Regions from separate parts of the Homo sapiens genome. Here region 2 is linked to region 1. A link means that fine-mapping ties the variant in region 1 to the expression of a gene that starts in the linked region. Tissue or cell type: whole blood. Region 1 holds a variant in brackets; the other region holds the start of a gene. All regions are shown on one strand. Distances are from middle to middle.

Evidence for each region. PIP is the estimated chance that this variant, and not a neighbour inherited with it, causes the effect.
Region 2: it holds the start of TNRC6A, and the variant in region 1 is fine-mapped to the expression of TNRC6A in whole blood (INTERVAL, PIP 0.90).

Annotation. Positions count from the first base shown.
Region 1 is chr16:24,678,943-24,684,092 of GRCh38, reverse strand. It overlaps a transcript of TNRC6A not described here. Among named protein-coding and RNA genes, the nearest start is that of LINC01567, 10 kb to the right of the region's middle. RefSeq lists an enhancer at 1-339. The variant T/C (reference allele first, on the strand shown) is at 2,366.
Region 2 is chr16:24,726,669-24,731,818 of GRCh38, reverse strand. TNRC6A (trinucleotide repeat containing adaptor 6A) reads right to left here and starts at 2,168. Exons shown (of 25, transcript NM_014494.4): 1 at 1,973-2,168; 2 at 1,519-1,566. The coding sequence starts at 1,977. RefSeq lists a silencer at 1,830-2,139.

The DNA.
Region 1 (5,150 bases):
CACACCCATTCATTAAGGATTGTCATGGGTGCTTTTGCACTACAATGGCAGAGTTGAATAGTGGTGACAAAGATGTTTGATTCACAAAGACTAAACTATTTACTACTACTCTGTTAAGAAGCTCACTGAGGCTTGGACAAGACACTCCTGGCTTTAGGGTGCAGAGTCTAATTAGGGAGAGCTCACACATCAGTACCTTTGAAGGGGAAGAGAGACTGGGAAGCAACAGTTCACTGTGAGTTAGTGTCGATGCCTATAATACCTTTATACCTGCTAGGGCTCACTAGGTGCAGGGCACTCTCCTTATTTTACCTCATTAAGTCCTGAGGCCTGTGGTTGTCCTTACTTTACAGATGAGGAAACTGAGGACAGCGAGAAGAGCTAAGGAAATTGCCCAAGGTTGCACAGCTAGTCGGTGGCAGAAACAGGACTTGAACTCGGGCAGTTTACCTCCAGAATCTGGGCTGTTAGCACGGCACTCTACCACCTCCCATGGGGAAGAGGGTGGCTGATGTTGGTGATGAACACAGCTGTGGCTTGTCTGCTGAGCCTTGCCTGAGCTACCATCTCACATGTCATAAAAACTGCAGGATAGGGGCTGGGCACGGTGGCTCATGCCTGTAATCCAAGCACTTTGGGAGGCCAAGTGGGAGGATCGCTTGAGCACAGGTGTTTAAAACCAGCCTGGGCAACATAGCAAGACTCCGTCTCTACAAAATAATTTAAAAAATTGCTGGGCATGGTGGTGTATGCCTGTAGTCCCACCTACTTGGGAGGCTGAGGTGGGAGGATTGCTTGAGCCCAGGAGGTTGAGGCTGAAGTAAACTATGATTGTGCCACTGCACTCCAGTGAGTGATAGAGTGAGAACTTGTCTCAAAAACAACAATAGTAACAACAACAAAAAAACACCAAAACCCAAAAAACTGCAGGAGAGCCTTTTCCTGCCACTAGAGCTGTTTTGGGGGCTTCCAGTATCTGATAAGAGTTTGTGCTCGTCATGGGGTCTCCTTGCTCTCAGTTCCAAGCTTCATAGCACATATGAGCCCAGGGCATTGGAGCCTCCAAAACTAGCTGGTGACCTTGGACAAGTTAATGAATCTCTCTGAGCCTCAGTTTTCCATTAGAATGTAAACAACTATCTTGAAGGATTATTGTGAGGGTTAAATTCAATGATGCATTTATCGAACACTTGGTGTACGCCTTGTGTCTTGGGAGGCTAAGTGTATACACTGTTCGATGGGCTCCCTTGTCTTCTGGCTTCCCATTGGTTTTGACCAATAGGGAGCCCCAGAAGATGATTGAGGAAGGGAGGAGACGGGGCTTGGGGCATTTATTCTCTGGCTGCTTCTCTGCGGTCATTCTGCGTGCTGGCTGCCTTAAAGTCACATTTCCCACCTCGGTGGCCCTCTCTCTATAGGCTTCTCAGTCTCTAGGGTACAGTGGTCATTCTTCCCCTTGGCCTTTCAGGCATAGGGGTGGTAACAGAAGCCAGCCTAATTAGTCCTGTGGATCCTTGCGGTTTTCTGCCCTCCGTTTGTAGAGTTCCTCTATTCAATCTTCCTTCAGCTGCGTGTGGTAGCTCATGCCTGTCATCCCAGCACTTAGGGAGGCCGAGGCAGGCAGACCGCTTGAGTCCAGGAGTTTGAGACCAGCCTGGACCATATGGCAAAACCCCATCTCTACTGAAAAAAAAAAAAAAAAAGCTGGGCGTGGTGGTGCACGCCTGTAGTCCCAGCTACTTGGGAGGCGAGGTGAGAGTATCGCTTGACCTTGAGAGGTTGAGGCTGCGGTGAGCTGAGATCACACCACTGCACTCCAGCCTGAGCAACAGAGCAAGACCCTGCCTTTAAAAAAAAAAAAATCAAACAAGTCCTCCTTTCATGACCTAATTTGAACATGTCTTCTCTTTCCTTCCCTTGACTGATGCATTCTTTGTTTACATTAATTACTCAAGTAGATCTGGTAGACTGTGTGCATTCTGCCCAGTTTCACAAAATAGCCACTCTCCAATTCCCCCGTACAACATTTACAGACAGTTGACTATCCTATCACAACTTACATCAGAGATGAATGATACTTATACTGGCGAGGCCGTGGGGAACAGAGGTGCTTTCATCGACAGATGGGCGGGAATATAATATAGTACAAGCTAAATACAGAGGAGTTTGGCAACACGTTGCAACATTTTAAAATATGCATCCCTTTTGACTCAGCAGTTTCATCTTTAGGAATTTATCTCAAGGAAATAATTATGGTAGTGTGAAAATAGTAATGTACTGGGGTACAATCAAACCAGTTGTCTATCAGTAGTTGACTAATTAATTAATTCCCATTTGTTGGGTGCCTATTAAGCATCAAGCACTG[T/C]TCTAGCCCCTAAGGATAGAGCAGCAAATAAATCTGAAAAAGCCCTGTTTTCATGGAGCTTATATTTTAACAGTTGGACTAATTACAACACATGTATACAATGGAATGACATGCAACTAGGCAGAAAAAATTAGTAGCTCACTATGAATGATTATGAAAATATGTCCACAATATATTACTAATAGAAAAAAAACAGGTTAGGTCAGGTGCGATGGCTCACGCCTGCAATCCTAGCATTCTGGGAGGCTGAGGCAGGCGGATCACTTGAGGTCAGGAGTTTGAGACTAGCCTGGCCAACATGGGAAAACCCTGTCTCTACTAAAAATACAAAAATTAGCTGGGCATGGTGGCGCATGCCTGTAATCCCAGCTACCCGGGAGGCTGAGGCAGGAGAATCACTTGAATCCAGGAGGTGTAGGCTGCAGTGAGCCGAGATCACGCCACTGCTCTCCAGCCTGGGCAACAAAGCAAGACTCGGTCTCAAACAAACAAACAAAAAACACCAAGTTAAAAAATGGTAAATAAAATAGGATCCTTTTTATCTATTAGATTTAGAAAAAAGGTATGGAAGAATATAAAACAAATTGTTAATAATTATTAATTGGAGAGATGGGGCTAACATGGACTTTTACTTTCTGTTTGATATGGTTCTGAGTTATTTTGGTTTTATTATAAAAAGCTTTACTGTCTAAGCACTTTGGGAGGCTGAGGCAGGAAGATTGTTTGAGCCCAGAAGTTTGAGATCAGCCTGGGCAATACAGTGAGACCTAGTCTCTCAAAAAAAAAATTTTTTTTTTTTAATTAGCCGAGTGTGGTTGTGCACGCCTGTAGTCTCAGCTACTCGGGAGGCTGAGGAGGATTGCTTGAGCATGGAAGGCAGAGGTTGGTTGCAGTGAGCTGAAATCGTGCCATTGCAGTCCAGCATGGGTGACAGAGCAAGACCCTGTCAAAAAACAAACAAACAAACAAAAAAACGCTTCCTAATAAATAATAGTTCCTTTTTTTTTTTTTTTTGATGGAGTCTTGCTCTGTTGCCCAGGCTGGAGTGCAGTGGCAGGATACTGGCTCACCACAACCTCTGCCTCCAGGTTCAAGTGATTCTTCCGCCTCAGCCTCCCAAGTATCTGGGACTACAGGTGCGTGCCACCACACCCAGCTAATTTTTGTATTTTTAGTAGAGATGAGGTTTCACTATGTTGGTGAGGCTGGTCTTGAACTCTGACCTCATGATCTGCCTGCCTCGACCTCCCAAACTGTTGGGATTACAGGTGTGAGCCACCGCACCGGGCCTCCTTTTTTTTTTTTAAGAGACAGTGTCTGACTCTGTCACCCAGGCTAGAGTACAGTGGTGTGATCATGGCTCACCATAGCCTGGACCTCTCAGAGTCAAGCAATCCTCCCTCCTCAGCCTCCAGAGTAGCTAGGACTACAGGCACATGCTACCATGCCCAGATACTTTTTTTTTTTCTGCATAAAGACAGGGTCTTGCTATGTTGCCCAGGCTGGTCTTGGATAAGTCATCCTCCCGCCTTCAGCCTCCCAAAGTGCTAGGGTAACAGGAAAGAACCACTGTACCTGGCCAAATATATTCTTCATATAAAATTTTTAAAAACTGTGGACAAAAGCTAATTCCTTCTTAAGCACCCCCAGGAAATCACTAGCTATCAGGTGATATGTTTACCTCCAGATTTATTTAAATGCATTTATATACATTTATGTGTAGCTACAGAAGACATGTAATGTGTTAAGTTGTATTTTATTTTACATGGATGATATCCTGGAGTGAATATTGTTCTGAATCTTGTTTAAAGATCCAGTGGGCCAGGTACAGTGGCTCACACCTGTAATCTCAGCACTTTGGGAGGCTGAAGCGGGAGGATTGCTTGAGTACAGGAGTTTAAGACCAGCCTGGGCAACATAGTGAGACCTTGTCTCTAAAAAAAAATAAAATTGCCAGGTGGGGTGGCTCACGCCTGTAATCCTAGCACTTTGGGAGGCCGAGGCGGGTGGATTGCCTGAGCTCAGGAGTTCGAGACCAGCCTGGGCAACGTGGTAAAACCTTGTCTCTATTAAAATACAAAAAATTAGCCAGATGTGGCAGCGTGTGCCTGTAGTCCCAGCTACTTGGGAGGCTGAGGCTGGAGAATTGCTAGAACTCAGGAGGCAGAGGTTGCAGTGAGCTGAGATCACACCACTGCACTCCAGCCTGGGCGACAGAGCAAGACTCCGTCTTTGAAAAAAAACAAAAAAAACAAAATTAGTCAGGTATGGTGGTATGTGCCTGTAGTCTCAGCTATTTAGTAGGCTCAGGTGGGAAGATCGCTTGAGCCCTGGACGTCGAGGCTGCCTTGAGCCAAGATTGTGCCACTACATTCCAGCCTGGGCAACAGAGAGAGACCCTGTCTCAAGAGAAAAAAAAATTCAATGTCTTGGCCGGGCGCAGTGGCTCAGCCTGTAATCCCAGCACTTTGGGAGGCCAAGGTGGGTGGATCACCTGAGGTTGGGAGTTTGAGACCAGCCTGACTAACATGGAGAAACCCCGTCTCTATTAAAAATACAAAATTAGCTAGGCGTGGTGGCGCTTGCCTGTAATCCCAGCTACTCGGGAGGCTGAGGCAGGAGAATTGCTTCAATCTGGGAGGCGGAGGTTGCGGTGAGCGGAGATTGTGCCATTGCACTCCAGCCTGGGCAACAAGAGCGAAACTCTATATCCAAAAAAAAAAAAAAAAAAAATTCAATGTTTTAAAGGTCTTTTCATATTAGTACTTTTAGATTGACTTAGTCT
Region 2 (5,150 bases), 48 kb before region 1:
AGAGCTGGAATTCAAACTCTGATAAATAGCCAACCCAGACTCGAGTTCTACCTAATATTAAAATTATACCTGTGGCACAGACAATTTTTAATTAAGTACTAGAGCACCTTCATAGGAATTATACTGATATAGTTACCTGATAAAACAAAAATGGAAGGAGAAACAGACCTCTAAGCTCTGTTCTGCTGATATTACACCTTAATGGCTCAACCTGTTTTCTTTAATGGTTTCATATCTTAACATTTCCTTACTAGATTTTGACAAAATTTATGTAAATATACCACAAATAGTCAGTGATGTCAGACTTAATTTCCTTTAAATGATCCCATAATTATTTTGAGTAACAGAGAATCCCTTACTGGGTAAACCAATGATGCCTATCCTTCACCATCTGAACACATTCTTTAACGATCACCTGAACAGATTAGTATCTTATGAAACTCAATAGGCCAGCAATTTGGAACAATTCTACGCGGTGCAAAATATTCAGACGATTTGAAATGTGAGTGTTAAAAACCCCAATGTAAACCTAAAACCCGCAATCATCAAGAGCAAACTACATTAAAACCTGAGATAGGAGAAATTTCATTTTATTTTCAACAAGTGAAAAAAAAGAAAAAAAGAAAGCTATTCACGGATTTGGTTAATTGGCTAAGTTTCCCTGAGTGTCCCAATATGATGCAAAAGAAAAAGGGGAATAAGAAAGGAAAAGACGGTAGGAAAGAAAATGAATGTGAAAAGGAGTTAAATACAGTACAATTCCTTGATGCTTAAGCAATTACAGCTCAATGAAGCTAAATATTTCCATTCCATAAAGACATCGTTTAAAAAAAAAAAAAAATTCTCCCTTCACGGTGATGCAAAAGCAGCAGGGCCCAACAGGAACGATAACCTCTTCTGGAGAAAAGATTTTTAATTATTTTACCAGCTGATAAAAAGAGCACACACCGAACATGGACAGAAATGGAGTTTCGAAGGAAAACAAAACGCAGCTTATGCTTGGTAAAGTTCAAGGACAAAACTGTGTCCAATGCAACAGAATCCGCCTGACTACAATGTATGGGGGGGGGGGGGGGGCGGGGGGGAATGCGAACACATAGTATCTTTTTATAAAAGCAACAATTTGAGCTACAAAGTAATAACGGGGAAGCCAAAACAGTTTGACAGCCCGCCATAAGGGCCGCCTCAATCATGAGTCACACAATGCCTGCAACCATTTACAATAGTAATTAATGCACAAGTCCCCTAATTAAATTCTAAAAGGGTGAGAATGCTTTAACTAAGTTTACAAGAATTGCTTTGCGCTTTTTTTTTTTTTTTTTAAAGAAAGAAACACACGCGTAATTACGCATCTCCCCGCAATCCCTCCAGTATTCCCCCAGGCCGCTTCTCCCGAATGTCTGCTCTCCGGGTGCGGAAGAAAATGTCACGGGGGAACTTCTCAACCCAGAAAAGGCGAATCGGAGTAGAAATATACGATTATCGTGGGGCGGGAGACGGAAAGCTCGCCCATCTTACCTGCTAAGATTTCTTTCTACGTCTTTGGTAGCTTTAGCTTCCAATTCTCTGAAACAAAAAAACAAAAACAAAAACAAAACAAAAACACACACACAAAAACGAGATGCGCGTGAAAACGGAGCTGCTGCGGCAGAGGCTCGCGCCGGGGCCGGATGGGGGAGGGGAGAGGACGGGGGGAGGGGGACTCACAAAGCTGCGGGGCTGCAGCCCGGACTGCGGTCCCGCGGCGCGGGCGAGGCGCAACCCCGGCCTGGCCCCCGCGGCGCGGCGCAGCGAGGCTCCCCCGGGCCGCCCGCTCGGCCTCCGCAGCAACGCAGCCTGCGCCCTCCCGCCGAGGCCCGAAGTCTCGGGGACGCCCGGCGCCGCCGCCTCTGCTGCCGCCGCCGCGGGTTGCGGGCCCTGCGGCAGCGCCCGCGGCTCCTCCCGCCCGGAGGGAGGCCCTTGTTCCGCTCACCTCATGTGTGTAAAGTGCACGAGCAAGTGGGGCGCGGCGAAGGAGGCTCGCGAGCCTCAAGCCCTCCGCAGCGCCGCGGGGAGAGGCCCGAGCCGCTGCACCAGCGCCATTTTCTACACCGACCCGCTGCCGCCGCCGCCGCCGCCGCCGCCGCCGCCGCCGACACCGCCGCCGCCGCAGGCCCCAGACCGGAAGTGAATGCCCCACTCGGCAACCCCTTCCGGGGGCGCCACGGCCACTGGCCCCCAAGATGGAGGCCCTAGCAACTGGACCCGCAGATTGGGCAGGTCCTTGGCAACCGCCCCGGCGTGTCACGCTGCACCCAGCCGGACCTCCCTGGAGGTCACAGCCTCCGAGGCGCCCCGCGGAGTGGCTGGGGGGGCCTGCGGAGTCCCGAGTCCAACCTTTTTCGGTGCGGCCGGCTCCGGTCTGACCGAGGAGGGGAGTCCCTCCCCTCCTCCTCCTTCTTTGCTGCGACACAAGTTTCCTACCCGCCGCCCGGCCCCTCCCCCACTGACACACGCCAAAAAAAAAAAAAAAAAAAATTGCCTAAAACGCAAATTTTACCCCAACTGCAGCCTGATGAGCCCGCGCGGCTTTTGAATTCAGCCACTTCTAATTATTTTTGACCTTGGGCCAGTTATTTAACCTCTCTGCTTCTCTGTTCCTCCTCAGGTAAAGAATGCATACCTGAGGCGGGTTGTGAGGCTTAAAAGCGATTTTTATCCACCGACCTTTGACTCAGCAGTTCCGCCTGCACGGATTTTCTGCTCAGGAAATAATTCTGGGTATCTGCAAATATTTCACCTTCGAGATACTAAGCTGTGGTATTGATGATGGTGAAAAATTGCAAACAGCCAAAATGTCCAGCGCTACTAGATGGCTTCAAAAACAGCTACTGGCATGTATTAGGACACTGTAAAAATGATGTGGAGGAATAATCCCGGCATGGAGGAAATGGTTGCAATAGAATAAATGAAAAAGCAGGTTCCAACGTAGCTCACACAGTAAGAAACATCTTAGTGTAGACACAGTAAGATACATACATGTAGATAGACTAAGATATGTATATATGTAGACACAGATGCATATGTGTACATTAAAAGTATACATACATACCTACATGTAGATACAATAAGACATACATATCTGCAGGTAGATACAACAATACACATACATGTAGATACAGTAAGATACATATTTTCACTTGCGTGTGTTCTTTCCAACCTCTCATCAAGCTTTTTCTTCTAATTTAAAGATAATTCCTCCTCTGTGCTTAAAATCTATAACCTTTACTTTCTCAGAAACCCCACTCTGTGGATCATCCCATTCTCCTTTTTCTAACCTAAGTTCTTCAACTGGCTTTTTTTTTTATTTTTTTATTATATTATCATTTTTTTTAGGCGGAGTCTCGCTCTGTCTCCCAGGCTGGAGTGCAGTGGCGCGATCTCCGTTCACCGCAACCTCCGCCTCCCGAGTTCAAGCAATTCTCCTGCCTTAGCCTCCCAAGTAGCTGGGATTACAGACACGCACCACTGCGCCTAGCTATTTTTGTATTTTTAGTAATGACGGGGTTTCGTCATGTTGGCCAGGCTGGTCTTGAACTCCTGACCTCAGGTGATCGCCCCCCTCGGCCTCCCAAGGTGTTGGGATTACAGGCGTGAGCCACCGCGCCCAGCTTCAACTGGCTTTACAACATGCTTGAATCTCTCCCGTTAAAAACAAACAAAACTTCCCTAGACATGTTGGGTTCCTGTCCTCTCCGATAGGTTAAGCTAGTGAATGAATGCACAGAAAGTCATGAAACATATGCACCAAAACGTTAACTGATTATGACTTTTTTTCATTTTCTTCTTTTAGTGTATCTGTTTTTTTCTTTTTTGCGATGAGCATATAAAAAACACTTTTTTGAAAAAAAAAATCAGGTTTACAAAATATAAAATGTAGTGGGCACCGAATAAATGCTAGTGACTTTCCTTTTCCTGCTATCATCCCTGAGGTTCATTTACCTACACACATATTTGTTTTTCTTTCATAATCCTTTCTACTTAAAATGTTTAAAAGTTACTATGGTGTTTCATTAGGAGTTTAAAAATATGAACATATACGTAATGGCACAATATGCTTTCATACCAGGTTTAGGAATAATTTTTCACAACAACATAAGGCAATGAAAACAGTCATATTTATCAACATTTGCACAGCTGTTAAGATTGGCTGATTTTTTTTTTATTAGACTTTTTTAGGTTTTAATGACTCAGTGATTCTTAATTGGGACAATGTTGCCCCCATCCCTACCCCTGGGGACATTTAGCAATGAACTTTTTGGTTGTCACACTGGATGCTACTGATTGGTATCTGATAGCTACAGACCAGGGATTCTACTAAATATTCTACGATGCGTAGGACAGTCCCCTACAACACGGGAGTATCTGAACCAAAATGCCAATAGCACCAAGGTTGAGAAAGCCTGGAACTAATTCCCAGCTCCAGCAAAGCTAATAAGATATGATTTCTTGGCCAGGCGCGGTGGCTCATGCCTGTAATCCCAGCACTTTGGGAGGCCGAAGTGGGCAGATCATCTGAGGTCAGGAGTTTGAGACCAGCCTGGCCAGCATGAGGAAACCCGGCCTGTAGTAAAAATAAAAAATTAGCCAGGCATAGTGGTGCATGCCTGTAATCCCAGCTAATTGGGAGGCTGAGGCAGGAGAATCGCTTGAACCCAGGAGGCAGAGGTTGCAGTGAGCTGAGATCACACCATTGCACTCCAGCCTGGGCAACAACAGTGAAACTCCACCTTAGGGAAAAAAAAAAAAAAAAAGATGTGATTTCCAGAAGGTTTGTTGACAGTGATTGGACATCCCATCTGAGCCCTCCTGGGCTGCAATGTAGAGTGTTTTATATGAGGTCATGCTAGTCACTTTTAAATTATCTCTTACTTAAACTTGGTGCATACATCGAAGAAAAATGACAATATAAGATCAGCACTGATTCCTTATGTGGGACCCTCTAAGGGATCTTTTCCTGTTACTATCTTTTCTTTTTACTAAGTAATCATTCTCTCTACTGAATATTTCCCATCACCACACAAACTCTAGTAACTTTCATTAAAAAGCAAAAAGCCCAAAACTCCCTTGATGCGTCATTCCTCTCCAGCTCCATTTTTCTGCTCTCGTTC